Regions from separate parts of the Homo sapiens genome. Here all the other regions are linked to region 4. The links come from fine-mapping of genetic effects on gene expression. A gene starts in region 4. Each other region holds a variant in brackets. All regions are shown on one strand. Distances are between the middles of the regions.

Region 1 (8,086 bases), 350 kb before region 4:
CGATTACAGGCATGAACCACTGTGCTCTGCCCCAAAATGAGTAATTTAAAGGTGACTGTAATATAGTTAAACAAATGCCTCTTTTCCCATTCTTTACTAACTTGTTATTTAAATGGGGCAAGTTTTTACAACATAAGAAATAAACAGGCCAGGCGCGGTGGCTCACGCCTGTAATCCCAGCACTTTGACAAGCAGAGGCGAGTGGATTTCTTGAGGTCAGGAGTTTGAGACCAGCCTGGCCGACATGGTGAAACCCCGTCTCTACTAAAAGTACAAAAATTAGCCGGGCGTGGTGGCACAGACTGTAATCCCAGCTAATCAGGGGGCTGAAGCAGGAGAATTGGTTGAACCTGGGAGGCGGACGTTGCAGTGAGCCTAGATGGCAACACTGCAGTCCAGCCTGGGCAACAGAGCAAGACTCCATCTCAAATGAAACAAACATACTAAAAACCTATTTACTTGTTTGATGTGAGTGTGCTTAGCTTTATTCCCCTTAAAGAGAGTCTTTTTTTGAGATGGAGTCTCACTCTGTTGCCCAGGCTAGAGTGCAGTGGTGCAATCTAGGCTCACTGCAACCTCCGCCTCCTGGGTTCAAGCGATTCTTCTGCCTCAGCCTTCAAGTGGCTGGGACTACAGGCGTGTGCTACCACGCCCAGCTAATTTTTTGTTTTTAGTATAGACGGCGTTTCACGCTGTTAGGCAGGATGGTCTCAATCTCCTGACCTCGTGATCCACCCGCCTCGGCCTCCCAAAGAGCTGGGATTACAGGTGTGAGCCACTGCGCCCGGCCTAAAGTGAGTCTTTAGGTGAAAAATTTTTGTGAATATTGTGATTTCTCCTTAATAATTTCTTGTGTATTTATGAATTTTATATAATTAAATGGCATATCAAAAAAATCACCTATGTTAATTATGTTTTTGACTCAGTTATATTTTCTTTTGGTACATTATTAAGTTAATATCCATATGCAAAAATATGCTGACAATATATTAATTTTGGATTTTTCATTTTTATCAGAAATCATGAGTGGAGGATCTCAAGTCCACATTTTTTGGGGTGCTCCAATTGCTCCACTGAAAATCACAGTATCAGAAGACACAGCTTCTTTAATGTCTGTTGCTGACCCCTGGAAAAAAATTCAGCTTTTATACAGTCAACATTCTTTATATCTGAAGGATGAAAAACAGCACAAAAATCTTGAAAACTATAAAGTCCCAGAATCTATTGGTTCTCCAGATCTTAGTGGTCATTTCTTAGCAAACTGTATGAATAGACATGTTCATGTGAAAGATGACTTTGTACGTTCTGTTTCTGAAACACAGAATATAGAATCCCAGAAGATTCACTCCTCTAGACTGAGTGATATAACTAGCTCTAATATGCAAATATGTGGATTTAAAAGCACAGTTCCGCATTTCACCGAAGAAGAAAAGTATCAAAAGCTTCTCAGTGAAAATAAAATTAGAGATGAACAGCCTAAACATCAGCCAGATATATGTGGTAAGAACTTTAACACAAATTTGTTTCAGTTGGGCCATAAATGTGCAGCTGTGTTGGATTTGGTTTGTAGTACTGAAAAAATTAATATAGGGCCTGAAGTGGTACAAAGAGAGTGTGTGCCAACAGAATATCATGAAATACAAAACCAGTGTTTGGGATTATTTTCCTCGAACGCAGTAGATAAGTCAAGGTCTGAAGCAGCAGTTAGGAAGGTCTCAGACCTTAAAATATCAACTGATACAGAATTTCTCAGTATAATTACCTCCAGCCAGGTTGCTTTTTTAGCTCAAAAGAAAGATAAAAGGCGGAGTCCTGTAAATAAAGGGAATGTAAACATGGAGACTGAACCAAAGGCAAGTTACGGGGAGATAAGAATACCTGAAGAGAATTCGATTCAGCTTGATGGTTTTACAGAAGCATATGAAAGTGGACAAAACCAAGCATATTCCCTTGAACTTTTTAGTCCTGTTTGTCCTAAAACAGAAAATAGCCGCATTCACATAAACTCTGATAAAGGTCTTGAAGAACATACAGGATCTCAAGAACTTTTCAGTTCTGAAGATGAACTGCCACCAAATGAGATACGTATTGAGTTGTGTAGCTCAGGAATACTGTGTTCCCAACTAAATACCTTCCACAAAAGTGCTATTAAAAGAAGCTGTACCTCTGAAGATAAAGTGGGCCAGTCTGAAGCTCTATCTAGAGTCCTTCAAGTAGCTAAGAAAATGAAGTTGATTTCTAATGGAGGAGATTCTGCTGTAGAAATGGATCGGAGAAATGTGTCTGAATTTAAGAGTATTAAAAAAACATCATTAATAAAAAACTGTGATTCTAAAAGCCAGAAGTATAATTGTTTAGTCATGGTGCTATCTCCATGCCATGTGAAGGAAATAAACATAAAATTCGGACCAAATTCTGGCTCTAAAGTGCCTTTAGCAACAGTTACAGTAATTGATCAATCAGAAACTAAGAAGAAGGTTTTTCTGTGGAGGACTGCAGCATTTTGGGCATTTACAGTGTTTCTTGGAGATATAATTTTACTCACAGGTGAGGTCATTATGGTATAGTGGTAGCTTATTTTATAAAGCTAAGTTTTGTTTGTTTTTGTTTTTCTCCCACTTAGTCTTTGAAGACTCTTTAGTCATTTGCCTCTTCTGAGCGCAGCATAATTGATCCCTTTATCGCATCTGCATTGTTCTCCTTTCCATTGTCCACTCTCCTGCCCATTGCCACTTCTGGGCCTCTGTTCTATCCTTCTCAGCTCTGTCCCTTCTTTCCACTTATCCCCTCCTTTAATAAGCCTTCCCTAGTCAGGTGGAGTGGGTCACACTTGTAATCCCAGCACTTTGGGAGGCTGAGGCAGGAAGATTGCTTGAGGCCAGGAATTTGAGACCAGCCTTGGCAACACAGAACCCGTCTCTACAAAAAATAAATTAAGGTTTGCGTGCCTGTAGTCCCAGCTACCCAGGAGGCTGACGCGAGAGGATTGCTTGAGCCCAGGAGGTTGAGGCTGCAGTGAGCTTTGATTGGGCCACTGCACTCCAGCCCGAGCAACAGAGTTAGACCTTTCTGCTTCTTTACCTAATGTCTAATAATGCTGTGCACATTGTATTTTTACTGTGGGAACAGTTATTGATTTCTATTGCCTTATTATCAAAATTATATTAATTACACTTGGAAATATGGAAAGGAAAAAACTGGTATTATACCAACTTCATATAACCACCAATAGAGTTCTAGAGTGTTGCCTTCCAGTTATTTTCTCTGTTCTCCTTAAAATGTGTGTGCATGTGTGTATATATCACACATAGAAGCTCATATTTATTGGGAGCTTAGTTTGTGAGACCCTGTTTTAGATTTTACATGCATATTTCATTACAACAAGTATATGAGGAAGGTACTGATTTTTATCCCTACTTTTCAGTTGAGGAAGCTGAAGCCCAGAGAAGTAAAGTAACTTGTCCAATGTCATACATCTAGGAAGTGGCAAAGCTATAGTTTCTCCTAGACTCCAGAATTTATACTCTTACTATATAGTTGTAACCATAAAGAACATTTTGTTTTTTTAATTTTTAATTTATTTATTTTTAAGAGACAGAGTCTTGCTATGTTGCCAAGTGCAGTGGGTACTCACGGGCACAATCCCATTGCTGATCAGCATGAGAATTTTTAAATTGTTATTTTTAATTTTTTGTTTGTTTGTTTAATAGGGACAGGGTCTCACTGCATTACCCAGGCTGATCTCCAACTCCTGGGCTCAATTGATCCTCCTGCCGCAGCCTCCCGAAGTGCTAGGATTACAGGCGTGAGCCACCGTGCCCATGGTATTTTTAACATGCCCTTGTTTCCAACCTGGACCAGTTCACCCCTCCTTAGGGAACCTGTGGTCCTCCACTCCCAGGAGGTCACTATATTGATGGCAAGCTTAGTGCAGACACCTGATCGGCTACAACTCTGAACTCCTGGGCTCAAGTGAGCCTCCTGCCTCAGTCTCCCAAGTAGCCAGGACTACAGGCACGCATGCCGCTGCACCCAGAGAGAATATTTAATATTTTTTTTTTTTTTTTTGAGACAGTCTTGCTCTGTCACCCAGGCTGGAGCGCAGTGGCACAATCTTGACTCACTGCAACCTCCGCCTCCTGGGTGCAGGTGATTCTCCTGCCTCAGCCTCTCGAGTAGCTGAGATTACAGGTGTAAGCCACCATGCCTGGCTAATTTTTGTATTTTTAGTAGAGACGGGGTTTCACCATGTTGGCCGGGCTGGTTTCGAACTCCTGTCCTCAGGTGATC[C/T]GCCCACCTTGTCCTCCCAAAATGCTAGGATTACAAGTGTGAGCCACCGTGCCTGGCCAGAATATGTTTTCACCGAACACATCTAACATTGTGTTACATGTTCTTTGTTGATTTAAAATTGACACATGGTGTATTAGAGCAGGAGGAAGTTGATTAAGCTTAATAAAATATCTAAAGAAAGAATGTGATACAGAGGAGGTATTTAGAAGAAGAAAACTTCGAAGCAATATTGATAATCCTACCAAATAGTTTACAGGAGGAATGAGAACCTTAGCTAATGTACCTTGGTGTTCCTGTAGGATTGTCAAGTACAATCTTTTTTGTTTTTTTGAGACGGAGTCTGGCTCTGGCACCCAGGCTGGAGTGCAGGGGCGCGATGTCTGCTCACTGCAAGCTCCGCCTCCCGGGTTCACGCCATTTTCCTGCCTCAGCCTCCTGAATAGCTGGGACTACAGGCGCCTGCCACCGCGCGCGGCTAATTTTTTTGTATTTTTAGTAGAGACAGGGTTTCACTGTGTTAGCCAGGATGGTCTCGATATCCTCACCTCGTGATCCGCCCGCCTCAGCCTCCCAAAGTGCTGGGATTACAGGCGTGAGCCACCGCACCCGGCCGAGTACAATCTTTTATAAAGAGGTAAACACAAGATTGTAATGAACAGGCTTAGCATAGCCACATCCCACTGGCAGTATTAGCTAATATTATTTATATGTGATTATATTATTGGAGATTCAATTCACCTAACTCCCTCTGTTCTGATTCAGTGCTTGCTGAATACCTCTTTGCTTGTGATTTGGCTTTCTAGTTGTAGAGCTGCCCACAGCATGAGAACAGGCTGAAATACTGTTTTTTTGGGCAATTAATGCCTCATTGTAAATGAAAAAAAAATTTTTTTTTCTTTAATTTGTTTCATTAGTTGATTTAGTATGAGCTTATGTTGCAGAGCTGAAATCTAGTTTTGGAGTGTTAACAAAATTAAGTTTCCCAGACTGTAAAAGAGGGCTGGATCCTGGACCATGGTCATTTTACCGAGGCAATTAATGTCAGCAGGGACCTCTCAGGGGCCTTTTCCTTTTTCCTAGGTAGGTGTAAACTCAACTCTGCAATCTCTGTATTTTTTCCTAACATCTCTATAGTTGTTAACAACGAGGTAACATTCTCTCTGGTGGCTGAAATGCAATTTACTTAACCATTTTCCTATTATAAGACATTTAGATGATTTCTATGAACATTTTTTTTAAAAATCAGATTTTTTTGTCTTTTTAAGAAAAAGAGGACCTAGTTCACTTATTTCTGAATAAGTTTCTTTTGTGTGGAACAGATGGAAATGTTGGGAAAAAAAAGAAATCTACACTTTTCTGTTGTCCTAATGAGGCAGTGAACTTAGTTGGATAGCCTGGGTAGTTCATACTACCTATTGATATATACCCCCAAACAGAAATCTTCCTTTTTTTTTTTTTTTTTGAGATGGAGTCTTGCTCTGTTGCCCAGGCTGGAGTGCAGTGGCGCGATCTCGGCTCACTGCAACCTCTGCCTCCTGGGTTCAAGTGATTCTCCTGCCTCAGCCTCCCAAGTAGCTGGGACTACAGGAGCCCGCCACCACGCCTGACTAATTTTTGTATTTTTAGTAGAGACAGGGTTTCACCATATTGGCCGGGCTGGTCTCGAACTCCTGACCTTGTGATCTGCCCACCTCGGCCTCCCAAAGTTCTGGGATTACAGGCGTGAGCCATCGCGCCCGGCCCAAACTGAAAAATTTTAAGTAACAGATGTATTCCAGACCTTGTTGAATACCAACACAGCAGACAGTTTGCTATTATAACTTCTAGCAATAGAATGAAGAGATGCCAAAAATAAGGATTACCTAAGGGAGACTACTGACTAGAATTAGAAGAAGATGGGAGGCTTAACATTGGGAAACAACAGTGTTTAAAGGACAAACAGAATAAGGACTAGGAGCTGGGGCATGTCAGTGAGAGGGTAGGAAGGAGCCAGGAGGCCAGGGCGGGCTACCCATCCCCTCCATGCACCACTAGTGATTACCATGTCACTAATCCAACATATGCTTCACAGTCCTAGCTTTCAGAATGCTCTCCTTGAAATTTCTCGTCTGTTCCTTTTTTCTGAAGAACATGCATCCTGAATGTTGGATCATGAAAAGTCTTGAATGCTGTACTAGCTCTTCCTGGCTAGGCAGTGGGGAACCACTGTTTTTTAGTAAGTCACCTGAACTCATTAATGCTCTGATATATCACTCGCCTGAACTCATTAATGCTCTGATGAATGACTCATTAGCATTGTAAGAAATGGGTTGCAGGCGGGACAAGCACCTGTTGGGAGGGAAAGGAATGTGTAATGTAAAACAGTAGTAGTGGTGGGGCATGGGCACATTTAAGCAGCAGAGGGGTAGGTGGGGGCTGGTGGCAAGGAGTGGGAAGGGAGAGGCAAGATGACTTCAGATGTTAGTTTACTTGATTAGCAGCATAGCGTCAACAAATGAGTTGGGCGCTATGAAAGGAAAAGCAGGTTTGGACATTGCTGAGTTTGGGGAGCCAATGGAATATCCAGGTGGGAATTTCCATTAGGCAGTTGTAGGTAAAAGGTTCAAAAGCTGAGGAAAGGGTCTGGAATCTAAATCTGTAAGTAATCACTTGGAATTTATACATCCTTGGTTTTCTTTCCTATTATCTCTACATTATTTCACTATTGTTAATATATGTTTATACCTCTGACACTGTATGCTGATTAGATCCTGCCTTAGAGATAGCTCCCTTCCCCTCTTTCTCTTTACAGCTCACACGTTTTGCTCTACCTACAATTGTTTCTACCTGTTGGTATGTTTAGTTCTACCTGATTCTACTCTATCCGTCTTAGATATACAGCTCTCTCTTTCCAATTGGAAAATGTTCCCTACCTCCAAAGTCTTTCACTTTTAACTTATGTGGAAGATAATTATAGTGCTATTTAGGGAAAAATAATCAAGTGTGTTAAGAATGCCTTATATTCAGATATATTTATAGTAGAAGGGACCAGTGCATACTGAATATTATTACTCTCCTAGGCACTACGGCTTTGGAACCACTACTTTGCCTTCTGGTCCTAAAAAAAATTATTTTTAATGTATCAGAAATATACATGATAACATTTTCCTTATGTAAATAAAAACTATTAAGCCTTTTTTATATAGAGCAGTGGACTTCCATACTGCTATCATTTGAATATAAAGAAGCAATTTTGTTAATTTACCTAGATTTAGATTTTAGATTTGCTGTTTTCTTATTTCGTGCCTTTAGGCAGGTTATTTAACCTATTTGATCTCTACTTGCTTGGTATATGGGAGGCATGCATAGTATTTTGTTGTGACTAGTAGGTTAACCACATTGTGAAGGAATTTATGGCATGATCAGAACGTTTTTTCTCTCTCTAGATGTTGTTATTCATGAGGACCAATGGATTGGCGAGACAGTACTACAATCAACATTTAGCAGTCAGTTATTAAATCTTGGGAGTTATTCATCTATTCAGCCTGAAGAATGTAAGGCACATTTTAAATGAAGTAATGTAGTAGTGTTTAAAGTATAAAAACATACTAGGAAAGATTAGGGTTAAAATGGTTCTTTTACAAAATGTTTTCTAAACAGTTGGAGAGTATTGGTTTCTTTTCATTAGTAAGAATGAAAATAGAATTTTAAGAAATGAACTTGTACATTGTAAATCACATTTATTTTAAGAAGTATTGGGTCTCATGTTTCGTTTTCTTAGGCCATCAGTATAGTGGTGGTTCTTCACCTTTTAGGG
Region 2 (8,104 bases), 140 kb before region 4:
TGGGCAGTCCCCTCCATGAAGGCAGACAGATAGACAGCAGCCTCAGGGGAAAGGGGCCCTGTCCTCTGAGCTCAGCTTTTGCTTCCTCCTGACCAGGGGTCTCCCAGGCCTCGTGCCCCTGGGTTATCTTTCAGGGGCCCACAGTCCTAGCCTCAGGACTCCTGCATCTGGGCATCATCCCTGATGCCTTCTGCCATAAATCCCACCCCTGGCCAGCTGAAACCTGGAGGAGGGGTCCCCCGAGACCCTCCTGGACCTCGTGGCCCTGAGTTGAGTCAGGAAGCCCCGTTGATGCCATGGGCTCTGCAGGGGCCGGGTGAGGGAGGGTGAGCCCAGAACTCTGGGAGCAGCTTTCTCCTGGGACTGGGGGATGGGACACAGTGAGGGCCTGGACAGCCCACCCGAGGCACTCCCTCCCATCCCTGCCCTCGGCCGCTGCCTGGTCCTGGGGGGAGGGGGCCTGGACCCTCTCAGCACAGCCTGGGCCTCCTTCACCGCCAGGTTCCTGGAGTTTGAGGCTGAGGAGGAGATGCAGATTCAGAAATCGCAATGGATGAAGGGGCCCCAGTGCCTGCCTCCTCCAGCCACACCGAGGCTTGAACCTCGAGGACCCCCGGCCCCTGAGGTGGTCAAGCAGCCAGGTATGGCTTCCCACATTCCCACAGGAGCCATGGCAAAGGCCAAAGGGGCCAAGGGAGGCCACTGTCCCCACACCCCATGCTTCCCTTCGAGAGGGGGATTTGCTCCCTCCAACAGGACAGTTTCCAGGAGCATATGTTCGGTATTGACCTGGTCAAGTTTCCTAGCTACTCTCTCCCCTCGCCTGTCCAAAACTCCACATATGCTCTGCCCAGGAAGCAGGGATGAGCGGGGAGAGTACACGGCATATTGGTGGCTCCAAACTTCCTCCCAAGCGATGCTGTCTCAGATGTGCCCCTCCTGCCTCCTCCGGGGGTGCTGCGGTTCAGGTGGTCCTGACCCAGCTGGGACCCACTTCACATCCCCAAGCCCTGCCCTCCCCTGTGTGGTGCCAGCAGGAGGAGCGGCCCTCACCACGCCCGTCCTCCTCCCTCTCTGCCTCAGTGTACCTTCCCAGCAAGGCCGGCCCCAAGGCCCCGACTGCCTGCCTGCCACCACCCAGGCCCCAGAGGCCAGTGACCAAGGCCCGCCGGCCACCACCCCGGCCCCACCGGCGAGCAGAGACCAAGGCCCGCCTGCCACCACCCAGGCCCCAGAGACCAGCAGAGACCAAGGTCCCTGAGGAGATCCCCCCAGAAGTGGTGCAGGAGTATGTGGACATCATGGAGGAGCTGCTGGGGCCTTCTCTCGGGGCCACGGGGGAGCCCGAGAAACAACGGGAAGAGGGCGAAGTGAAGCAGCCACAGGAAGAGGACTGGACGCCCCCAGACCCGGGCCTCCTGAGCTACACTGACAAGCTGTGTTCCCAGAAAGACTTCGTCACCAAGGTGGGCTGGCCTGGAGTGCTGGGGTCTGCTGGATTCCAGGGGGTGGCACTCCCAGGTCCTTGGAATTAAGCTCTGTTCCTTAGCTACTCAGCAGTGTGTGTATTTCCAAGGATTTGAGTGTCTGTGTATGTGATTGTGTGTGTCTGTGTGTTGCTGTGTGTTTGTGTCTGTGGTTTGTTACTGTGTGTCTTTGTGTGTCTGTGTGGGTGTGAGTGTGGAGTGTGTACGTTACCTGTGTCTGTGTCTTTTCCTGTGTCATATGTGGGTCTGTTTGTGTGTCTGTGTGTGGTTTGTGTGTCTCTGTCTGTGTGTGTGTAGCTACCAGGTCTGTGGTCTGTGTCTGTAGCTGGTGGTCACCATGATATGAGACAGCCCCAGGAGGGTGGGGACGGGGCGCTCGCTGCTTTCTGCATCTCCTCCAGGTGTCCTTGGCTCCAGGTTACTCCCTGCCCAGGAAGCTCACGCCTTCTTCCTTCTGTTTCCAGGTGGAGGCCGTCATTCATCCCCAATTCCTGGAAGAATTGCTTTCCCCAGATCCACAGATGGATTTCTTGGCCCTAAGCCAGGAGCTGGAGCAGGAGGAAGGACTCACCCTTGCCCAGGTACCCCAGGGGCAGGAGGGACCTGGCACACAAGGCCCACCTGATTGTCTAATCCCCCCCGCTGGGGATGCTCGGCTTCTTGGGGAGCCACTCTGGAGTGGGAAGATGCAGGTTCAGAGGGAGTAGGATGGACAGGAGCCAGGGAGGGGAGTCAGCATGCAAGCTGTGGTGAGGCCCAACGGGAGGCCCGGCAGAGCCACACCCTCTCTCTTTGACATAAAGCCCAGCTGCCTCAGGCTTCCCTACCTGCCGCCTAAGTGCCCTGGTCTCCACCACCCTGGGCCCCGCTCACACCTGGGGCAGTGCCCGTAAGTGCCCCCTTTCCTCCCGCAGCTAGTGGAGAAGCGCCTCCTACCCTTGAAGGAGAAACAGCATGCGAGGGCAGCCCCTAGTCGTGGCACAGCCCGGTTGGACTCAAGTTCTTCTAAGTTTGCAGCTGGCCAAGGAGCAGAGAGAGACGTCCCTGACCCCCAACAAGGGGTTGGCATGGAAACCTGCCCACCCCAGACGACTGCCCGGGACTCTCAGGGACGAGGCAGAGCACACACTGGCATGGCCAGGTCCAAAGACTCTGTTGTGCTTTTGGGATGTCAGGATTCCCCTGGGCTGAGGGCTGCCCGGCCAACCTCTCCTCCCCAGGACCACAGACCCACCTGCCCTGGCGTGGGTACCAAGGATGCCTTGGATCTCCCTGGAGGGTCTCCTGTCAGGGAGTCACATGGGCTGGCTCAGGGGTCAAGTGAGGAGGAGGAACTCCCCAGCCTGGCCTTCCTCTTGGGTTCCCAGCACAAGCTTCTGCCCTGGTGGCTACCCCAGAGCCCTGTCCCTGCCTCGGGCCTTCTCAGCCCAGAAAAGTGGGGACCCCAGGGAACTCATCAGTCCCCATCTGCTGAGAGAAGAGGCCTCAACCTAGCACCTTCTCCTGCCAACAAGGCCAAGAAGCGACCTCTCTTTGGAAGCCTGTCCCCTGCTGAAAAGACACCCCACCCAGGGCCTGGGCTCAGGGTCTCTGGGGAGCAATCCCTGACTTGGGGGCTGGGTGGCCCCTCACAGTCTCAAAAGAGAAAGGGTGACCCCTTGGTCTCCAGGAAGGAGAAGAAGCAGCGTTGTAGCCAGTAGGGGCTTCTGAGCAGGCTCTCTGGGGCCGATCCCCAAGGATGGGGCTCTGGCATCCGATGCCCCAAAGCGGTCAAAAGCTTCTTCTCCCCCAGTGCTGATCTTGCTGGGCCTTAGCTTTGGAGGGTAGGGGAGGGAGGGGAGGGAGAGGGTGGCCTGAATGGGGAGGGCAGGAAGGGAGGGTCTGGGGGGAAGGGGCTGGGGAGTGGGGGTGGGAAGCAGTGTGTTGGGGGCCTCGTGTGTAAGTGTGAATAAATGTAGTTGTCTTGGAAAATGCTCTTGGGGCTGCTGCCTCTGTCCTCGGTGCTGTGCTGCTCCGTGGAGGGTGTCTGTGAGGGAGGGCAGAGGAAC[T/C]GGCAGATGCCAGGCTCTGGGAACCCACAGAGGCCGGCCCCACTCTTTCCTCCTGACGTAGGGAGCCCCTTCAGATGCTCCAGGGACTGACAGATGCTGAGGAAGCCCTGATCCCTCCCACCACCCACTCACAAGGCCCTGCCTGCTTTAGGGAGGCTTCTTGGGGCCCCCTCATCGTTATCAGCATCCCTGGAAAATCCTGGGATTGGAGAGAGCTGGCTGGCTCTTGTTCTGCTCGGTGGGAGCTGAGGAGAAGGCAGCCGCCTGCAACATGGACATGGGGAGAGGAGGCTGCTCCTGCTTAACCCTCATCAGGAAGAGCGCGGGCACTGGGCTGAGGGGAGACGTTGAGGTGACCATCCACACAGGTGTGTTTGGGATACGATGATGGGTGGGGAGCAGGGGAAGTCCTTCTGCCTGTTTCTGGGCAGGAGAGAGTCTTGTCCAACTAGCTAAAGCAGATGCTCCTTGCTGTGGCCACAGGGACTGGCCTCGGGGCCCTCAAGGTCCTGCATGGAGCCCCCCACAGCTATGATTCCCTTCCCATATGATGACTGAACTCATGTGGAATTGATGTAGACACAGATTTACATTGGTTTCTAAAACAGTTCCCTCCCAACACACCATCACCAATGGGAACAAGCATGTCCAGTCCATCAGGCGCAGGGTGGGGGTTTCTGCTGGTTCCAGGGCCCGGAGGAGCTGGGGCCCAGGCCAAGAGGGGCCGAGGGTCAGCCGCCCTTCTGCCAGGCACAGACCCCAAGGGCAGAGCAGGGGCTGCCTGGGATGTGGCATTGGCTGTCTGGGAAGTGCCCTGGGAGTTGGGGGCTAGGTGTTCGCCAAAGGGAGACTTCCAGAGTCTATGAGTGAGATGAGGACTGCATCAGGAGAGGGACCGAGGCTGGGGAGGATGCTCTGCTCTTTCCCAGGTTGTCCTGTCTTCCCAATCTCTGCTGAACTGCCCTCACCCCATGGGCCAACTCTGCCCCCCTTACCCCTAACCCACCTCTTAGAATCTCAGATCCCAGCGTGGACAGGACCCGGCACCCACCCTGGTTCCCTCCTGGCCAACACCTTCTTCTCCACGGTCTGAGTTCTGATTCCTCCCCCAGGGCGCTTATTGGCTCAGGACCCCTGTGACTGCCAGGGCACTGGTCCCAGCACTGCCTGCGTGCAGAGCTGTGGTCACGGCCCTGGGGGCTGGCCCAGCAGCAGAGGCTGGTGGGGCAAAGCTGTCTGGTACACGGTGGCCTGGCCCCTCGGCCAAGTGACAAAGGGAGCCATGTTTGGGTCCTCTCTGGCCCCATCTGCCCACAGAACACAGCAGTCAGCCTGACAGATGCCCCTCTGCCCCGTCCCTTCTGCTCGATGTGGGCAGTGTCGGAGGCCTGCTGTCTTCTGTGGCCTTTGGGAAGGAGAGTTTATCTTGGCAGGGCTTCCCCAGCTCAGTGCACGTCAGGCCCTCGGGGAAAATGTGGGGAGCGAAGAGTCACTGGTGGGTGATGTGGGCAGCTCCCGTGACTCCTCTACATTCACGGCCATCCTCAGGAGATAAGGTAGCACTGCCCCTTTGCAGGGTTTAGGAATGTTAAGTGAGCCGTGTTTGAAGGGAACATGGTCCATACTCTGGCGTGTGTGGGTGCCCAGCCAACTTCCTCACCTAAGGGTGAAAGTGACACCTTGGGGCTCCTGCTGGTTACCCCACTGGCTGTTGTCTATCCCACTGTCCCTGTCCTTGTCTTGGCTGAGCCATTCCTAGGAAGCAGAACTTGTGCTTCCTCCACCTCTGTGTCCCACCTGAGCCCTACAATCTGCCCCTAAATGGGCACAGTGGGGCTGACTGGGGGGCTCTGGTAGACTGAACATACGTCCCCCGCCCAGTTCCTGTGCTGAAGCCCTAACCCCCAACGTGATGGTATTTGGAAATGGGGCCTTTGGGAGTTATTCAGGGTTAGAAGAGACCATGAGGGTGGGGCCCTAATGATGGGATTAGGGCCCTGGTAAGAAGCAGAGACCCCAGAGCTCTCTCTCTCCCTGACACGAGGACACACTGAGAAGGCGGCCATCTGCAAGCCAGAGAGAGAGCCCTCACCAGAACCTTGCCCACTGGGATGCTAACCTCGGACTTCCAGCCTCCAGACTGTGACAAATACATTTCTTTTTTTAATATGTGCCACCACCCCCAAGTCTATGGCCCTTTGTCCGAGCAGCCCTATGTGACTAGGACAAAGTCCATAATCTCAAGAACTTCCTTCATGACTGGTATCTGGAAACCGTGCATCAGAGCCACGGGAAAGAAAGGCTCAGCCCTTTACAACTGTCAGCACACCTCCACCCCAAGTGCAGTGTATCACACATGAACCAGGAGAGCCTGGGACACAGTGAAAAGGAATCTGTAAATACCCATGATGTCATCGCATCCACACTTGGGGAAGCCATGCAGCTTGCTCACAGCAGGTGCTGGGGGTGTGCTGAGGCTCTTGGTCGGCTTGGCCTCCCTGCTCACACACCCAGGTCACTCTCTGGGAACCAGTGCGGCTGGGGTGGCCCCTGGCAGGTTTGCCTCCAGAGACCCCTCCCTTCACCATTGGATGACAGATCCCCGAAGAAGCCATAGCCTCCTGGGAAACTCCATCTGACAACGTGAGCAAGGCTTGCCCCCGTTAGTGAACATGCTGTGCTTTCTGACAGCTATGAGGATGGACTTGATCCAGGTGGCTGCCCTTTTGTAGCTCACTTTGATTCTAACTTCAGCGTTGCATGATGCCCTATGAATGGAATATACAATGTGTGTCTTTCACATCTGTCTTCTTTCACTTAGAATAATATTTCCAATGGCATCTACATTTTTAGTATGTATCATTACATCAAACCTTTTTGTTGCTGAATAATATTCCATTAATGGATATACTAAAATTTATCCATTTATCAGTTAAGAACGTTTGGGTTTTTTTCACTTTTTGGCTATTGTGAATAACACTTCTAAGAACATTTGTGTACAAGGTTTCCTGGGGATGTATGTTTCCATTTCTCATGGCTACATACCTAAGAGTGAAATTGGTGGACCATATGGAAACTCTGTGTTTAACCATTTCAGAAGGTGCCAGACTGTTCCCAGTGTACATGAACCATTTTATATACCCACTAGCTGTGTGAGGGTCCCAGCGTCTCTCCATATTCGAGCCAACATTTATTATCAACTCTCTTTTTGATAAAGTCATCCTAGTGGTTCTGAAGTTGCATCTCATCGTAGTTTGCATTTGTGTTTCTCTGATGTTGAACCTCTTTCACGTACCTATTCGCCACTTGTATATCTTCTTTGGAGCAATGTGTACTCAACATTTAGTAATTTTTAACTGGTTTGTGTTTTGTCATTGAGTTATAAGAATTCTTTATATATTCCAGATAAAAATGCTTTACAAGATATAATTTGCAGAAATATTCTCCTTCTGTGGGTTGTCCTTTACTTTCTTGATGGTACTCTTTGAAGCACAAAAGTTTTTACTTTGGATGAAGTCCAATTTATCTATTTTTTCTTTTGTTACTTGTGGTTTTGATGTCATGTTTAAGAAACCGTTAACTAGTCTTAGGTCATGAAATTTATTCCTATGCTTTTTCCTTTTTTAAAAACCATCTTAAACATTTTAAATTGTACAATTTAGTAATGTTATGTATATTCACATCATTGTGAAATTTAGATCTTTAGAAATTTTTTATCTTTCACAACTGAAATTTTGTACACATTAAATACTAATTTTCCCCCTACTCCCACCCCCGGCCCTTGGCAACCACTACTTTATGTTTCTGTGATTTCGACTACCTTAAATACTTCATATGAAGGGAAAGTATTTGTCCTTTTGTGATTGGCTTATTTCACTTAGCATAATGTTCTTGAGATTGATCCATGTTCTAGCATGTGACATGATTTCCTTCTTTCCGTAGGCTGCTTAGTCTTCCATTGTATGTATATACCATATTTTATCCTTTCATCCACCAATGGATATTTGGATTGCATCTCTTGGCTACTGTGAATAATGCTGTAATAGGGATTGTATGGAATTTGTAAATTGTTTTAGGTAATATGGACATTTTAACAATATTAAGTCTTCAAATCCACATGCATGGAGATGTCTTTTCATTTATTTATATACTCTTTGATTTCTTGTAGCATTGTTGTTTTGTAATTTTTAGTGTCCAAGTTGTTTGCCTCCTTGGTTAAGTTTATTTCTAAGTATTTTGTTCTTTTTCATGCTATTATAAATAAAATTGTGGGTTTTTTGTTTTTGTTTGTTTGTTTGTTTATTTGTTTGTTTTTGTAGTAGAGACAGGATTTCACTATGTTGGCCAGGCTGGTCTCAAACTCCTGGCCTCAAGTGATCCGCCTGCCTCAGCCTCCCAACATGTTGGGATCACAAGTGTAAGCTGCCGCACCTGGTCTGAAATTTTCTTCTTAATTTCCTTTCCATATTGGTCATTGCTAATGTATGGAACTGCAATGGATTTTTGTGTGTTAATTTTGCATTTTGTAACTTTGCGGAAATCATTTATTAGTTCTTACAGGTTTTTGGT
Region 3 (8,104 bases), 110 kb after region 4:
TCTCACCTACCAGCCCAGCGTGAATGTGATTTTCCTGACAAACAGTTTGGATTGCTTCCAACCCCTCAGGCTCTGTTCACCAGACTCTATGGAAATTATTTCCCTTTCCAGACAAGGTTGTCTTCTCCAGTACAAAATGGATTTTGTACTCTTTTGCCCTAACTCAAACTGCCTTTCCCTAACGATTCTCTAGAGGTCCAATTCTTCCAGTGAAGAAACTGAGTAAATCATTTCTGACCTGCCACACTCATCTGCTCCCCACATTCACACTGGGTTGCCGGCCTCCATACCTTTGATAATGTCCTTGCCTGCACCAGAGTTACCCTCTTCAGCACTCTCCTTCCCCCGTATCACCACCACAGATGAGAGCACCAGCTTGATGGCAAGGTCAGCTTAAAACACTCCAAGAAATGTGTTTCAAAACTCACTGCAGGTAAAAGTGTCAGGGCCACATACTGAGTTTCATGGGCCTTATGTACTTTGCCTTTGTGGGCCCCTGCACTCCATCATCCATTTTCATGGGCTCTAAATGTTTTATTTTCTTCTGGTGTGAAGAAAAAAAAAACATTTTCTTTAACCCTAAGTTCACTTTTTTTCTTTTGATTTTAAAAGAAATTAAAACATTTTGGTGGGCCCCTAAAAGTATTGTGGAGTTCTAGGCCAGGGGTCCTCAACCCCCAGGCCCAGTATCAGCCTATTAGGAACTGGGCCACACAGCAAGAGGTGAGCAGTGGGTGAGTGAGCGAAGCTTCATCTGTATTTACAGCTGCTCCCCATCGCTCGCATTACCACCTGAGCTCTACCTCCTGTCAGATCAGGGGTGGCATTAGATTCTCATAGGAGCACAAACCCTATTGTGAACTGCACATGTGAGGGATCTATGTTGTGTGCTCCTTAAGAGAATCTGATGCCTGATGATCTGTCACTATCTCCCATCACCTCCAGAAGGGACTGCCTAGTTGTAGGAAAACAAGCTCAGGGCTCCCACTGATTCTACATTACCATGAGTTGTATAATTTTATTATATATTACAATGTAACAGAAATAAAGTGTACAACAAATGTAATGCATTTGAATCATCCCAAAACCATCCCCCACCCTGGTCCATGGAAAAATTGTTCTCCATGAAACCAGTCCCTGGTGCCAAAAGGTTGAGGACCACTGTTCTAGGCATTGTGCCTAATGAACAGTCAGATCTAAGACTGTATCTTATGTAATATGAAAAAGGTAGTTCGGCCTGGCCACAGTGGCTCACGCCTGTAATCCCAATACTTTGGGAGGCAGAGGCAGGCAGATCACCTGAGGTCAGGAGTTCAAGAGCAGCCTGGCCAACATGGTGAAACCCCATCTCTACTAAAAATACAAAAATTAGCCAGGCCTGGTGGTGCATGCCTGTAATCCCAGCTACTTGGGAGGCTGAGGCAGTAGAATCACTTGAACCAAGGAGGTGGAGGTTGCAGTGAGCCAAGATCGTGCCACTGCACTCCAACCTGGGTGACAGAGCAAGACTCCACCTGAAAAAAAAAAAAAAAGAAAAAGGTAGTTTGGTATATGATATGGTTTGGCTGTGTCCCCACCAAAATCTCATCTTGAATTGTAGCTCCCATAATTTCCACATGTTGTGGGAGATAAGTGAATCATGGGGACGGTTTTCCCCATACTGTTCTCATGGTAGTGAATAAGTCTCACAAGAGCTGATGGTTTATAAGCGGAAACCCCTTTCACTTGATTCTTATTCTCTGTTTGTCTGCCGCCCTGTAAGATGCCCCTTAGCTCTTCCTTCATCTTCTGCTATGATTGTGAGGCCTCCCCAGCCACATGAAACTGTGAGTCCATTAAACCTCTTTTTCTTTATAAATTACCCAGTCTTGGGTGTATCTTTATCAGCAGCATGAAAACAGACTAATACAGTAAATTGGTACCACTAGGGTGGGGTGCTGCTGTAAAGATAACTAAAAACGTGGAGGCAAATTTGGAACTGGGTAACAGGCAGAGGTTGGAAGAGTTTGGAGGGTTCAGAAGAAGACAGGAAAATGTGGGAAAGTTTGGAACTTCCTAGAGACTTGTTGAATGGTTTTAAACAAAATACTGCCAATGATATGGACAATGAAATCTAGGCTGAGGTGGTCTCAGATGGAGATGAGGAACTTGTTGGGAACTGGAGTAAATGTCACTCTTGCTATGTTTTAGCAAAGAGACTGGCAGCATTTTGCCCCTGTCCTAGAGATTTTTGGAATTTTGAACTTGAGGGAGATGATTTAAGGTATATGGTGGAAGAAATTTCTCAGCAGCAAAGCATTCAAGAGGTGCCTTGGGTGCTGTTTAAAGCATTCAGTTTTAAAAGTGAAACAAAGCATAAAAGTTTAGAAAAATTGTAGCCTGACAATGTGACAGAAAAGAAAAACCCATTTTCTAAGGAGAAATTAAAGCTGGCAGCAGAAATTTGCATAAGTAACAAGGAGCCAGATGTTAATCACCAAGACAATGGGGAAAATATCTCCAGGGCATGTCAGAGACCTTTGTGGCAGCCCCTCCCATCACAGGTCCAGAGGCCTAGGAGGAAAAAATGGCTTCATGGGTGAGGCCCAGGACCCCTCCGCTGTGTGCAGCCTAGGGACTTGGTGCCCTGTGTCCCAGCTTCTCCAGATGTGGCTAAAAGGGGCCAAGGTACAGCTCAGGCTGTGGCTTCAGAGGGTGCAAGCCTCAAGCCTTAGCAGCTTCCACACGGTGCTGAGCCTACAGGTGCACAGAAGTCAAGAATTGATGTTTGGGAACCTCTGCCCAGATTTCAGAGGATGTGTAGAAACGCCTAGATGGTCAGGCAGGAGTTTGCTGGAGGGGCAGAGTCTTCATGCAGAACTTCTGCTAGGGCAATACAGAAGGGAAATGTGGGGTTCAAGCCCCCACACAAAGTCCCCACTGTGGCACTGCCTAGTGAACTGTGAGAAGAGGGCCACCATCCTCCAGACCCCAGAATGGTAGATCCAACACGCACCTGGAAAAGTCACAGACATTCAATGCCGGCCTGTGAAATCAGACAGAAGGGAGGCTGTACCCTGCAAAGCCACAGGGGCAGAGTGCCCAAGACCATGGGAATCTACTTCTTGCATTAGTGTGACCTGGATGTGAGAGAGACATGGAGTCAAAGGAGATCATTTTGGAGCTTTAAGATTTGACTGCCACACTGGATTTTGGACTTTCATGAGGCCTTTAGCCCCTTTGTTTTGGCCCATTTCTCCCATTTGGAATAGCTGTGTTTATCCAATGCCTATACCTACATTGTATCTAGGAAGTAATAATTTGCTTTTGATTTTACAGGCTCATAGGTGGAAAGGACTTGCCTTGTCTTGGATGAGACTTTGGACTGTGGACTTTTGAGTTAATGCTGAAATGAGTTAAGACTTGGGGGACTGTGGGGAAGGCACGATTGGTTTTGAAATGTGAAGACATGAGATTCGGGAGGGGCAAGGGGTGGAATGATATGATTTGGGTGGGTCTCCATAAAAATCTCATCTGTAATTATAGCTCCCATAATTCCATTATGGGAGGGACCTAGTGAGAGATAATTGAATCATGGCGTGATTTCCCCCATGATGGTTCTTGTGGTCATGAATAAGTCTCGCAAGATCTGATGGTTGTATAAGTGGAAACCCCTTTCACTTGATTCTTATTCTCTCTTTGCCCACCGCCATGTAAGATGTCCCTTTGCTCTTCCTTCATCTTCTGTCATGATTCTGAGGCCTCCCCAGCCATCTCTTTTTCTTTATAAATTACCCAGTCTTGGCCGGGCACAGTGGCTCACACCTGTAATCCCAGCACTTTGGGAGGCCAAGGTGGGTGGATCATGAAGTCAAGAGATTGAGACCATCGTGGCCAACATGGTGAAACCCCATCTCTACTAAAAATACAAAAATTAGCTGGGTGTGGTGCCACATGCTACTCAGGAGGCTGAGACAGGAGAATCGCTTGAACTTGGGAGGTGGAGATTGCAGTGAGCCGAGATTGTGCCACTGCACTCCAGCCTGGCGACAGAGCAAAACTCCGTCGAAAAAATAAAAAAAAAATCACCCAGTTTCACTTATGTCTTTATTAGCAGTATGGAAACAGACTAATACAATATAGATGTTCAGAGTACCAATCCCGGAGCAAGGCTGTCTGGGTTTGAATCCTGACTCTGCTACTCTTTGAGGCCTCTGGGTGACCTCAAGGGAGTTAATTAATGTCTTTGTGACTCAGTTTCCTCATCCGTAAAATAGGGATAATACTATCACCTGGTTTATAGGATTGCAGCAATGGTTAAATGGGCTAATATGTGCTAAAACCAGTGACTGACAAGTAGCACTATATGTTA[G/A]CTATTATCATCATTAATTATTGTCAATATTAGGTACTTGATCAGTATATAGAATAAAATGAGCAAAACAATGAAATTCTTCTTATGACAAAATATTATTTTCAGCAATATCAAAGCACTTTAAAATAAGGACTCTGTGCTGGGTGCAGTGGCTCACGCCTATAATCCCAGCACTTTGGAAGGCCAAGGCAAGCAGACTGCTTGAGCTCAGGAGTTCCAGACCAGCCTGGGCAACATGGCAAAACCCCATCTCTACCAACAACACAAAAAATTAGCCAGGTAAAGTGGCATACACCTGTAGTCCCAGCTAGTTGGGAAGCTGAGGCTGGAGGGTTCCTTGAGCCTGGGAGACCAAGCCTGCTATGAGCTGAGATCACATCACTTCAGCCTGGGTGACAAAGTAAGAGCCCATCTCAGGGGAAAAAAAAAAAAAAAAAAAGGAAGGACTTTACATTCGGACATAATTATTTCTATTTTTAAGAAAGAGGAAAACAAAATAAAAACCCTCTGGGAGATGAGGCAGACTGTTGATAGTATATGAATGCATCTTTTTCTGCACATTTTTGGAATCACAGACCCTTTTCAGCTGGAAGTGTTTAAGAGGCCATGTATCCCAGCCTTGCAAAGAGTGAAAAGAATTTTTCCCATGACGCAGCTCCTTGAACACTTAAAGGAACACAGAGTTGAATCTTTCCTCAAGCATCTTATTTCACCATCAATCAGGTCAGGTCTTAGAATGTTCTCCCATATATGCTGGCTAAAATATTATCTCCCTGCAGCTTCCATCCACTTATCCTGCTTCTGCCTGTTTGAAGCTACTTAGAACAAGGTCATTCTCTTTCAGATAACAAGCTCCCAAGTATTTTCAGATGGGGCTCAAGTATTCTTTTGTCTTCTGTCTTCCAAGGTAGTATTAATTTTTTCGTCCATGTCTTGGGGGCCATGACTTACATTTGCTTCACCAACCTGATCTTTCTCCACAGGGTGCAGCCTACTGCCACTCTTACTACATGGCATCCCAATGTGAACATGGTACACCACCTCTGCTCTGGCCAGGCAGAGCCCTGAGGGAGCCCTGAGACTGTCACCTTCTTTGTATTAGTAGAAATACAGATTAAGATCACTTGAGATGTTTAGGTTGTTGCATTATACTTTTAGTTTAATTATACTATAGTTCTCAAGCCAGGTGTGTTGAGCCGTTTTTTTGTTTCTATAAAGGAATACCTGAGACCGCATATTTAAAAAGAAAAGAGATTTAATTCGCTCACAATCCAGCAGAATGTACAGGAAGTGTAGTGCCAACGTCTGCTTTTGGTGAGGTCTCAGGAAGCTTACGATCAAGGTAAAGGGGGAGCAGGTGCCTCTCATGGTGAGAACGAAGGTGCCATACTCGTAACCAGATCTCATGTGAACTCAGAGCGAGAACTCATTATCATGAGGAAGGCTCCAAGCCATTTGTAAGGGATTCGCTCCCATGACCCAAACACCTCCCACGGGGCCCCACCTCCAGCACTGGGGATTGCATTTCAATATGAGATTTGGAGGGAACAAACATCCAAATCATAGCATCAGGTTTCTCCATCCTTTACTTCTACAATTCATTTTATAAACTTGACATACCCTGTTATAACCACTTCTAATCTTACTCTTTTGACTCAATGTCTGAACCTATTAAGGCTCTCTTAAATCTTGATTTTCTTTTAGCAATCGCATTAGGTTTCCCATCCAGTCTTTTGCCACGTTCGAACTTGATAAGCATATGATTGCATCCAAGTCAGGCACTTACATCTTCCCCAAGGCAGGATCAGACCACTCATCTAAGGGACTGCCTCTGGGTTGACATATTTTTTTGGATGTAGTTAAACCAGTTTTGAAGTCCTAATTACCATCATTTAACTCAAATGTCTTGCTCTTAACTACAATGTGATCAAGATGATAACAGGCCAATTCAAATCAACATTTAGTTTGTCGAGGCCAGTAGTCTGCGAACCTAGATGCCCTTAAGAATCACCTCTTTTCAAATAAAGGCTAATACAGATTTCCATGTCTTGCCTCTGAGACTCTGAGTCAGAAGGTTTTAAGTGAGGCCTGAGAAGTAGTAATTAAAAAGCACTCCAGGCCAGGCACAGACTCACACCTGTAATCCCAGCACTTTAGGAGGCCAAGGTGGGTAGATTGCTTGAGTCTAGGAGTTCGAGACCACCTGGGCAACATGTTGAAACCCTGTCTCTACAAAAAATACAAAAACTTAGCCAGGCATGGTGTGCCTGTAGTCCCAGCTATTTGGGAGGCTGAGGTGGGAGGATCCCTTTAGCCTAGGAGATCAAGGCTGCAGTAAGCCGTGATCCTGACACTGCACTCCAGCCTGAGTGACAGAGCAATACCCTGTCTCAAAAAATAAAATAAAATAAATAAATAAACAAAGCACCCTAATGGTTGATAGCACTAGTACTTAGGAACCAAGTGATCTTTCTAATCAAAGTGTGGCCAAAGTGTAACTGCAGCACCTGGGGGCTACTTGGGAAAGCTAAATCTCCTGCCCTACCTCAGACCTGAATCAGAATCTACCCTTGAACAACATCCCAGGTGATTCATAGGCACATTAAAGTTTGAGGAGCACTATGTATGCAGTTCCTACAAGTTAGCCCTCTAATTACTCAAGAAGGAAAAGAAGAGGAAGAAAGGCAAGAAAAAGAGAAGTTCCACCTTCTCAGCTTATCAAAATTGCATACAAATTTAAACGTGGGTGAATTGCTTCACCTCTTTTTACCCGAATTTCTTGGTCTATCAAGTGGGCATGGTGATCACAGCTACCTCACAAGGGTGTCGTCAGGATTAAGGGAGTGAATGCTGGTGAAACACTGAGAACAGCACCTGCCCATGCCAAGCTCTCAGTGTTATGGGGTGAATTGTGTCCCCTAGAAAGATATGTTGAAGTCCTAACTCTTGGTACCTGTGAATGGACCTTATTTAGAAAAAAGGGTTTTTGCAGATGTAATCAAGTTAGGGTGATGTCATTAGGGTGGGCTGTAAGCCAATAGGACAGGTGCCCTTATTAGAAGAGGCAAACGCCATGTGAAGATGCAGACACACAGGGAGAAGGCCTTGTGAAGATACAGGCAGAGACTGGAGTGGCACAGCTGCGAGCTAAGGAGCATCAGGGATGAATGGCCACCAGCAGAAGCTAGGAAGAGCAAGGAAGGATTCCCCTACAGGTTTTGGAGGGAGCATGGCCCTGCCAACATCTTGATTTTGGACTTCCAGCTTCCAGAACTGTGAGACAATAAATTTTTGTGGTTTTAAGCTACCTAATTTATGGTGCTTTGTTATGGCAGCCCTAGAAAACTAATTGAGTATCTTGGTCATAATGATTATGGTTGCTACTATAATTGCTAGCAATTGCTGGCATAGGGTTGAGCACTGCAGAGACTGTGGTAACCCTGCCCTCAGGAAGACGACAGCCAAGAACTGTGCCTGGAGGGTGGTAGTAAGTGGATTTTACCCATCTGGTGGGCATTTCAGAGGAGGATCACAATAGGGGAGCAGGTAAGGAGGCACTAAGCAATCTTGGGTGCCCAGAAAGCCTTCCTAGAAGAGATGTCACCTATGCTGAGGGACTGGTAGGGTGAGGTAGGTAAGAAAGTTGCATATGCTGTTCCAGGCAGAGGGACAGTATTCGAACACCCCTGAGATGAGAGAGGCAACCAGTAACAGCTCTGAAATCACATCTGCCATTTCCCTGGTCTGCAAGTT
Region 4 (8,104 bases):
AATCAACATCTGGCAACTGTTAAAAGAGGAATGATGCAACAGCAGGGCAGAAAGATAAGAAAGCTCAAACTTTCCTGGCATAGGCACAAAGTTCGTTGCTTAATGTAGTTATGAGATAATAAATATCTATGAAAAACTATTTGTCAGTTTATTTAAGAGAGACGTGATAATAAGAAACCCTTTAATTCTGCTTAATAAAAGCAACTGATATTTATTTGGGGGCAGAAACTATATAAAGTCTTTATATAAGCTGTTTCGTTTAATCCTCTCAACAGTCTCATGGCTAGGTATTATTATCCCCACTTTACAATGAAAAAGAATGGTGGCAAAATAATTTAATTTTTTAAATATTTCACAGGTAATAAGAGATGAAGCTGGAATCTGAAAACCAGAAAGTCTAACTTCTGAGACCATGTTCTTAGTATTGTATATGCTTACATAGAGAGCCTTGCTGTTTCCCTACAGAATTTAGCTGTTTCCTTTCCTTTATTGTTTCATCCCCAGAAAACTATCTTAGTAACCTCTTTAAAAGTAAAGTAGATGGCTGTTAACTTAAAATACTATATATGACACCATGTAATCTTTTTTTTTCTTTTTGAGATGGAGTTTTACTCTTGTTGCCCAGGCTGGAGTGCAATGGCGTGATCTCAGCTTACTGCAACCTCCACCTCCCAAGTTCAAGCAATTCTCCTGCCTCAGCCTCCCAAGTAGCTGGTATTACAGGCGTCCACCACCACACCCAGCTAATTTTTTTGTACTTTTAGTAGAGATGGGGTTTCAACATGTTGGCCAGGCTGGTCTCGAACTCCTGACCTCAGGTGATCCACGCACCTCAGCTTCCCGAAGTGCTGAGATTACAGGCATGAGCCACTGTGCCTGGCTGACACCATGCAATCTTAAAAGCTGAATGACTATTTTTGAAATCCTATGGATAATCTGGCAAAAATAATTGAGCTTATCCTTTCGTATAGTGGATTGATTAGAAATGAAGTTCTACTCAAGACCCATTAATGTAGGACCATCAAGTTAAACTTTTTTTCTTTTCCACTCTGAAAAAATACAACAGATAATGTTTGCTTCTAAATAAAATTGCAGAACCACTAGCAATTCATTCTCAGTTGGATCTCCAGAGCTGACCATACAAACTTCTACTTGTTTCTCCCATTCCTCTTAGTTGTCAATCCTTTCCCATTACTTTCCCATTTCTCTCAGTTGCAAATCCAAACCATTTTCACATTTCAAGACTTAATTCCTATTCCCCCATCTTTCAAACTTGTCTCCTATGTTACTGTGGAAACTGAGGCCATCAGACTTGAATTCTATGAACTCTCTCCTGCCAGATCTACAAATTTATCCCCATGTTCACCCATCCTTCTAACATTCTCTTAGAAGATAAGGTCTCATCTCCTTCTGGCCCAAATCAAATTCTCTACCTGTGTTTTTGGTTCTGTCCTCTCCCATCTCTGCAAGGACCTTGAACCATTAATTTTCCTTTCTGCCTCTTGTATTGTGTTAGATTTGCCAAATATATTGCTCCCATACCCACAATTTCTTATGAGGGGAGGTGATGTTCCCATGATCTCTGCAAAGGAATAGCCATGTTTCGCACTATGCAAACTTCTCTGTACTACATGATTGGACCAAGTGGGCACCTATGTCAAAGGGCATCCAATTTACAGAGTGCCCAGATAATTCAGACATGGTCTGGCATGAAATGAGGAGCACGGCCTGTGACCTTTTTAAATTTTTTCAAAGGCTGCTTAGTGCTCTAAGAACAAGATATCCATTTTAAGTGAAATGAGTGGATTTTTATTATTAGAAAAGTTATGAAATGATCTTTGATGCATGTGTTGCCTGTGAAAGTCATTCACTTTAATGTTCAGTGGGAGTAAGTGTAATCCATGTAATTGCTAGAAAGCTAGGCATCTTAGCACAGGAATAATCACACTGAACATTAGTAATGATAAAAATATCATTTATAGCGGCCTATCATATGGATTTTAAATACATCATCTCTGTCATGATAATCCCATGATATAGGTTCTAATATTACCAATTTTCAGATAAAAAAAAAAAACTAAGGCCCAGAGAACTTGGGTCACTCAATTAATAAGCAGCAGAGCTAATTAGAGTCTGGGTCCAAAGCTTAAGCACTCTTCGTCTTCTTTATATTTGGCTTTTTCCTAGCCAAAAACATGGAGGCATTGCTTACTTTTACTTTATCATTGTTATCTTGGCATAACATCAAAATAATTAGGAGCTGATATACCTAAGTGTATAAAACAGGATAAAATTAATTGATGAGGAATTAGATAAGGAAAATAAAATCAAACTAGGGGCAAATTTCATGTATAAAAATGTGTACTGTGCCATACATTTTGTAAGTGGAGTCTCTAAAGATTGCTTCATAAGGAAGAAGTGAATAATGACTTTGGGAACACTTGGTAACCCCTAGGACTCAAAAGATTGGGTGTGAGAAGTTATTAGTAAGCATATGTATTAGGCAAAATACAGTGAGATGAACCTGGAACAAATGCTCGCTGAATGCACTTAGAAATATTATCAGGCGACTCAGCCTATAGAGCATACGGGTTAGAATGTCTATTTTAAGAAGGAGCGGATATTTACTAAATGCTAATTTGAGCAAAGTTCTACAAAAATATCACTGACCATGAATATTCAGGCATTGACATGCTACAAAATAGCATATCGAAAAGAACATCTGTTGCCCTAAAGATGGTTTCCTGCACAGAACGTCTCCAAATTTTCAGCATTCATAGGCTGGCCCCGTTTCTTCTTGGTTAACATTTAGAGGCACGCCTAAACTTAGAGGAACACCTCTCTAAACCAAGGAGACACTTAAAGAGAAAAGGAGTAAAGATGGTGATGGGCTTATAAAGAGCAATGTAATAGTGTCTTTGAAGCAAAAGCTAACTTAATGAAAACGTGGTCCCAATTTCCTTAAATCTGGATCACCGTACGACTTCTGTAATACTTATTATTTCCCCAGCTGGCAAATAAACTGGAGTTCAAGTGGGAAAAAACAAGGTATTGTTCAGACTTATGATTTTTGGGGTCAAAGATTCTGAGCAATAACCTATTAAAAAACCCAGCTTTTGATTTGAGTATGTAAGTAAGTACATGGGAGGAACGTATGGATCTGGAGTGGTGGTAAATACAGAGCATGTTTGCTTCGCAAAGCAGATTAGCTCATACTTAATAATAGAGTAAATCTGTTGGGCCATGACTCAATGCACCCAAATTCTCTAGATTGCTATGTCTCTACTCGCTAAGCCTTCGGGAACAACAAGCACAGAACTTTTAGGGTGCTGTCTCACTGATGTCGGCGTTAGCTCTGGTAGTCCAGGTCAAGATTATACCAAAGATTCAGGACTTAAATTCCTGCAGAATGTAAGCCCCTTTCCAAGTTCTCTGCTTTACTGTATCCTGTTTATTTTCAAACTCAAATGGAAAAAAACGAAACAAAAACCTTGGGCTTCAAGAGGCATCCTGCCGCAAGGCCCAGCGATGTGAATTTTCAACAACCGTCTCAGGCAGATTTCATGCTGATGGTTCAGGCACTAAACTTTGAAAAACACAGTATCACAGAGTAGGGATGGTGATGTAAGAGTCATCTGTAAAAGCTGTGCTGTTTTGGCAGCCTGGGAGGCTAAGGTTTAGTCTAGGCGACTAAGGTTTAGTCCGGGCTGTATTCACACCCAAAACAACTAAAAAAGCGGAGGAGTCTTTGAGTCAATCCCTGAAGCTCCGGCTAAGAGGAAACTCGCCCACGCTCCAGGGCAGCGACGCCGGCTCCACCTCAGCCACGGCTGTCTCAAGCTTCTCGGGGTTTTCCGCCGGCTCCACCCGAGCCACAAGTCTACAGGACTCCTCGGAGCTTTCCGCCGGGACGCAAGACCCACCGCCAGAGGTTGGTACCTCCTAGAGAACAGCGAAGCGCATCCCGAGGGCCGCCGGCCGGAAGCGCCCTCCAGACCCGCCCCCTGCCCTCCGGAGCCGGAAGCTGGGCATCTGCAGCTGGCTCGGCGCACTCCACTGACCGTCCCGACGATGCTACGCGCGCCCGGCTGCCTCCTCCGGACCTCCGTAGCGCCTGCCGCGGCCCTGGCTGCGGCGCTGCTCTCGTCGCTTGCGCGCTGCTCTCTTCTAGAGCCGAGGGACCCGGTGGCCTCGTCGCTCAGCCCCTATTTCGGCACCAAGACTCGCTACGAGGATGTCAACCCCGTGCTATTGTCGGGCCCCGAGGCTCCGTGGCGGGACCCTGAGCTGCTGGAGGGGACCTGCACCCCGGTGCAGCTGGTCGCCCTCATTCGCCACGGCACCCGCTACCCCACGGTCAAACAGATCCGCAAGCTGAGGCAGCTGCACGGGTTGCTGCAGGCCCGCGGGTCCAGGGATGGCGGGGCTAGTAGTACCGGCAGCCGCGACCTGGGTGCAGCGCTGGCCGACTGGCCTTTGTGGTACGCGGACTGGATGGACGGGCAGCTAGTAGAGAAGGGACGGCAGGATATGCGACAGCTGGCGCTGCGTCTGGCCTCGCTCTTCCCGGCCCTTTTCAGCCGTGAGAACTACGGCCGCCTGCGGCTCATCACCAGTTCCAAGCACCGCTGCATGGATAGCAGCGCCGCCTTCCTGCAGGGGCTGTGGCAGCACTACCACCCTGGCTTGCCGCCGCCGGACGTCGCAGGTGACCCCCCGGGCGGCCCGTGTGCTGTCCCGGTCCTCCCACCCGCCCTGGATGCTCTCCCGCCTCCCCCAGACCCTGGGCTTTTCCGATGCCCCCCAGTTCTCTTTCCTCTTTTCCCAAGCCATCATCCCTCGGGCTACGTCCTCCCTGTCGAGGGATATTACAGACTTGGCTATCTCTTTTTCCCCTTACACGTATGTTCATTTATTAATTCATCAGGTGTAAATTCAGCACCTTGTACTCGCTGCCTGCTTTAGTAGAGTTGGGGATCCAACAGGAAAGGGGACAGACGAGGTCTCCCGCAATTTTTGCGCTCCCGTTCCCAAACTGAATTGCCCCTTCGAGCGCCAACCCATCCCTTCCCCCTTCCCTGGCGTCTAGTTTCACAATTGGGCGCACGTTTTAAAAAACAGAATCTAGAATTTTCTTCCTCGGGCTTTGCTTCCGATACTAGTTTTTCCTTCTTTCTTTTTTTTTTTTTTTAAACTCATCATCTTTTTCAGATGACAGTTTTAGACCTACACCCTGTTTTAGGAACCTGATCTCAAGCCTTTGTGTCCTCCTTTTTTCTTCTGTTTTGTTCATGTTTTTACTGTAGCGTTCCCATCGTTGTAGCTGTGGTCCGTGGTCACAAGCAGTAACAACTCATTTATTCCATTAATTACACTTTTTCGAAATTTGAGAAATCATCTAGTAAGGCCCCGTTATTTCACAGGTGAAGAACCCGAGCCCAAGAGTATGCCTTCTTAATTGTCTTTCTCTAAGGTCTAGTATCCAAGTCTTCTGTTTTCCTAGAATGGTTCTTTTTCTCTTAGAAAATGTTGTAATAGTTACAAATAATAATGATAGCATACACCTCATGCCTATTGTATGCCAGGTATGCCTCACATTTATTTTACAAAATCCTTACAACCACAATCTGGAGTTGATAGTATTTTCCCCTTATCTCAAAGATGAGGAAATTGATACACGAACACATTAAATAATTTGCCCATTTTCATACAGCTAGCTGTGGACCCAGGAAATCTGATTCAGAGCTTGCTTTCTTAGCCATTATGCTATACTGCCTCCATTTGTCCAATAACATACCTAATAAGAATAAAAACATGTAACATTTTTGTACCACAGAGATGAGCAAGCATTAATAGTTTCTTGATCACTTTTAAGGCCAGAATTGAAGTGAGGATTATTGTTTAGCTTCAAAGCCCAAGTGAAAAATTAGAAGTAGGCTGGTTTGTAATTTCTTCTGTAGCTGTTGAACAGTGAAACCATCTGTAAGGGATTTCTCCACTGATTCTGTGTCATGTTATTGTGGGTAATTCAGTTAGCTGACTTGTGTCTAATTACTTGTTGAACTGTGTTTTTTTTTAAATATATACTTTTTCCATTAGCATGAGTGAAAATTCCTCATAAATCTGTTAAATTAACAGAATGGTGAAAGCAGAACATATTTTAATATAACACAATATCTATAGCGACTTCCTGGAACAAGTGAATTTTTGTTCTCAGATGGCATTGCGAAGACTGGCATTTGACTCTCAGTACAGAGCCAGGGATGAAAATACTACAGTTCAGAATAAGCCCACTCCTGACCGTTTTCAGTGTCAGATAGCAAACCCTTTGCCTAGCCACTTTATTATTCTCTATAGACAATAGTTTTGCCTATTATGTACATCTGGTCTTTTGAGGGAGTCTGCTGAATTAGATTTGTAGTTTTGTAGAAACAGAACAATGCCTTTGTTTTTGTTTAAAGACTAGCAATAATTAGATAGTAACAAGGATAAAATACCCAGATGCACTTGGGAAATTATATTTTAGTGTACACAGAAAAAAGGTGACAAAGTTCGCTTATTTTCCTAGTCAAGATATTTTCTTAAGAATTGCAATCCAGTTGACAAAGTGGGCAGAATTATCCATTTCAAGAGAAACAAACATACATACTGATTTTTTTTGCATACACATCCAAAGCCCAGATAAAACTATATTCAATTTTCTCATATTTTATGTACAAAAATGATATACTTGGTGTTCTTTTCGTGGTAAATTGTTGGAGAAATGATTGAAAAATGTGTGTTTTGAATATGACTGAAAAAAACGTAAAGGGCACACCAGTAGTTGAAGCATGATTATGAATGCTTCTCCAATACATATTTGTTGCCCAATTGGGGGCATAATGTAATTTATTAAATTTTATATAGAAAGTTATCTGGGGCTTCAGTTAAAAGATAAACCAATTCACAGGCCCAGCACAGTGAAGCACAGGAGACCCAAAACATCAGTGCGTTTTGTGCTGCTGTCAGTAGTTTTTGTCCAAAGCAGAATCTTTGTAAAGTAATACAGAGTTGGGAAGGTTAATTGAGAAAATAAAATACTCTGTTTAGACTTTGGCTTAGAGTGAAAAAATAGATTCCATATGTTGAATTCTCTCTCACCTTGTAAGTAGAAACTTTGCTGATTTTTAGTTTGCTTTCTAAAGTTTTCCGTGCCTGACAGAAACAGTACTTATTAATGTATGATGCAATTTCATTGCGTAGCATCTCTACAACACATTTAATCTTCAATCTCTATTTCTTTAGCCTTTTCTAGCTATTCTCATGCGTTACAGCCATTATAAATGGGGAATAATTTTACCCCAAGAGTTTCCTGACCAATATGTGCTTATTTCAGCTGTGCGGATTAGTAAGATGTTAGTGTTCCTTTTTCACACTTAACATTTTCAATAATTTGAAACTGTCATTTATGTCAGTGATTTACAAATACATATAAATTTTTTTCTCTTTCAGATATGGAGTTTGGACCTCCAACAGTTAATGATAAACTAATGAGATTTTTTGATCACTGTGAGAAGTTTTTAACTGAAGTAGAAAAAAATGCTACAGCTCTTTATCACGTGGAAGCCTTCAAAACTGGACCAGAAATGCAGAACATTTTAAAAAAAGTTGCAGCTACTTTGCAAGTGCCAGTAAATGATTTAAATGCAGGTAATATGTCTGTTGTCTTTTATTTGAACTTAACAGTTTAAATAATTTTGAACTGTGAAAATGAAAACATAAGGAAACAGTCTTTTTTAAAGACCCATAATTGATCTACATTAAGAAAATAATATGTTCTGGGTCAAAAAAATTGTATACCTTGTGCTTACTATTTACCATTTTTAGATTCATATTCTTCTTTGAGTGTTATTTAAATTACTGTACAAGATTCTAGTTATATTCTGGAGTTTTTTTGAGGGCAGAGTAATATAAAGCCTCAACTGTAGGCATTATTTTTAAAACAAATTATCTTTTCTGAATTTCCCCCTGATAAAGTGATACAAATGGAAAAATCATATAAATTCTTTAGCTTTTGAAGCAGTTCAAAAGTACCTGTTAATGTGTAAGAGGGGTAAGTTTTAGA

The links. PIP is the estimated chance that this variant, and not a neighbour inherited with it, causes the effect.
Region 1: its variant is fine-mapped to the expression of MINPP1 in whole blood (TOPMed, PIP above 0.99).
Region 2: its variant is fine-mapped to the expression of MINPP1 in breast (GTEx, PIP above 0.99).
Region 3: its variant is fine-mapped to the expression of MINPP1 in whole blood (TOPMed, PIP above 0.99).

Annotation. Positions count from the first base shown.
Region 1 is chr10:87,150,333-87,158,418 of GRCh38, forward strand. It overlaps SHLD2 (shieldin complex subunit 2), which reads left to right. Exons shown (of 10, transcript NM_001330112.2): 3 at 1,018-2,547; 4 at 7,716-7,823. The coding sequence starts at 1,023. It overlaps LOC124902475 (a long non-coding RNA gene), which reads right to left. Exons shown (of 3, transcript XR_007062222.1): 3 at 7,848-8,086. It also overlaps the pseudogene RN7SL733P. Among named protein-coding and RNA genes, the nearest start is that of SHLD2, 59 kb to the left of the region's middle. The variant C/T (reference allele first, on the strand shown) is at 4,291.
Region 2 is chr10:87,363,738-87,371,841 of GRCh38, forward strand. It overlaps NUTM2D (NUT family member 2D), which reads left to right. Exons shown (of 7, transcript NM_001382304.1): 4 at 502-641; 5 at 1,084-1,466; 6 at 1,952-2,068; 7 at 2,402-3,458. The coding sequence ends at 3,187. Among named protein-coding and RNA genes, the nearest start is that of NUTM2D, 10 kb to the left of the region's middle. The variant T/C (reference allele first, on the strand shown) is at 3,536.
Region 3 is chr10:87,608,961-87,617,064 of GRCh38, forward strand. No RefSeq gene overlaps it. Among named protein-coding and RNA genes, the nearest start is that of PAPSS2, 47 kb to the right of the region's middle. The variant G/A (reference allele first, on the strand shown) is at 4,352.
Region 4 is chr10:87,500,845-87,508,948 of GRCh38, forward strand. MINPP1 (multiple inositol-polyphosphate phosphatase 1) reads left to right here and starts at 4,049. Exons shown (of 5, transcript NM_004897.5): 1 at 4,049-4,708; 2 at 7,492-7,689. The coding sequence starts at 4,072. It overlaps MIR4678 (microRNA 4678), which reads left to right and starts at 3,037; the gene lies at 3,037-3,110. It overlaps LOC112268064 (a long non-coding RNA gene), which reads right to left and starts at 3,990. Exons shown (of 2, transcript XR_002957094.2): 1 at 3,491-3,990. RefSeq lists a cis regulatory region at 1-158 and enhancers at 4,019-4,108, 4,269-4,328.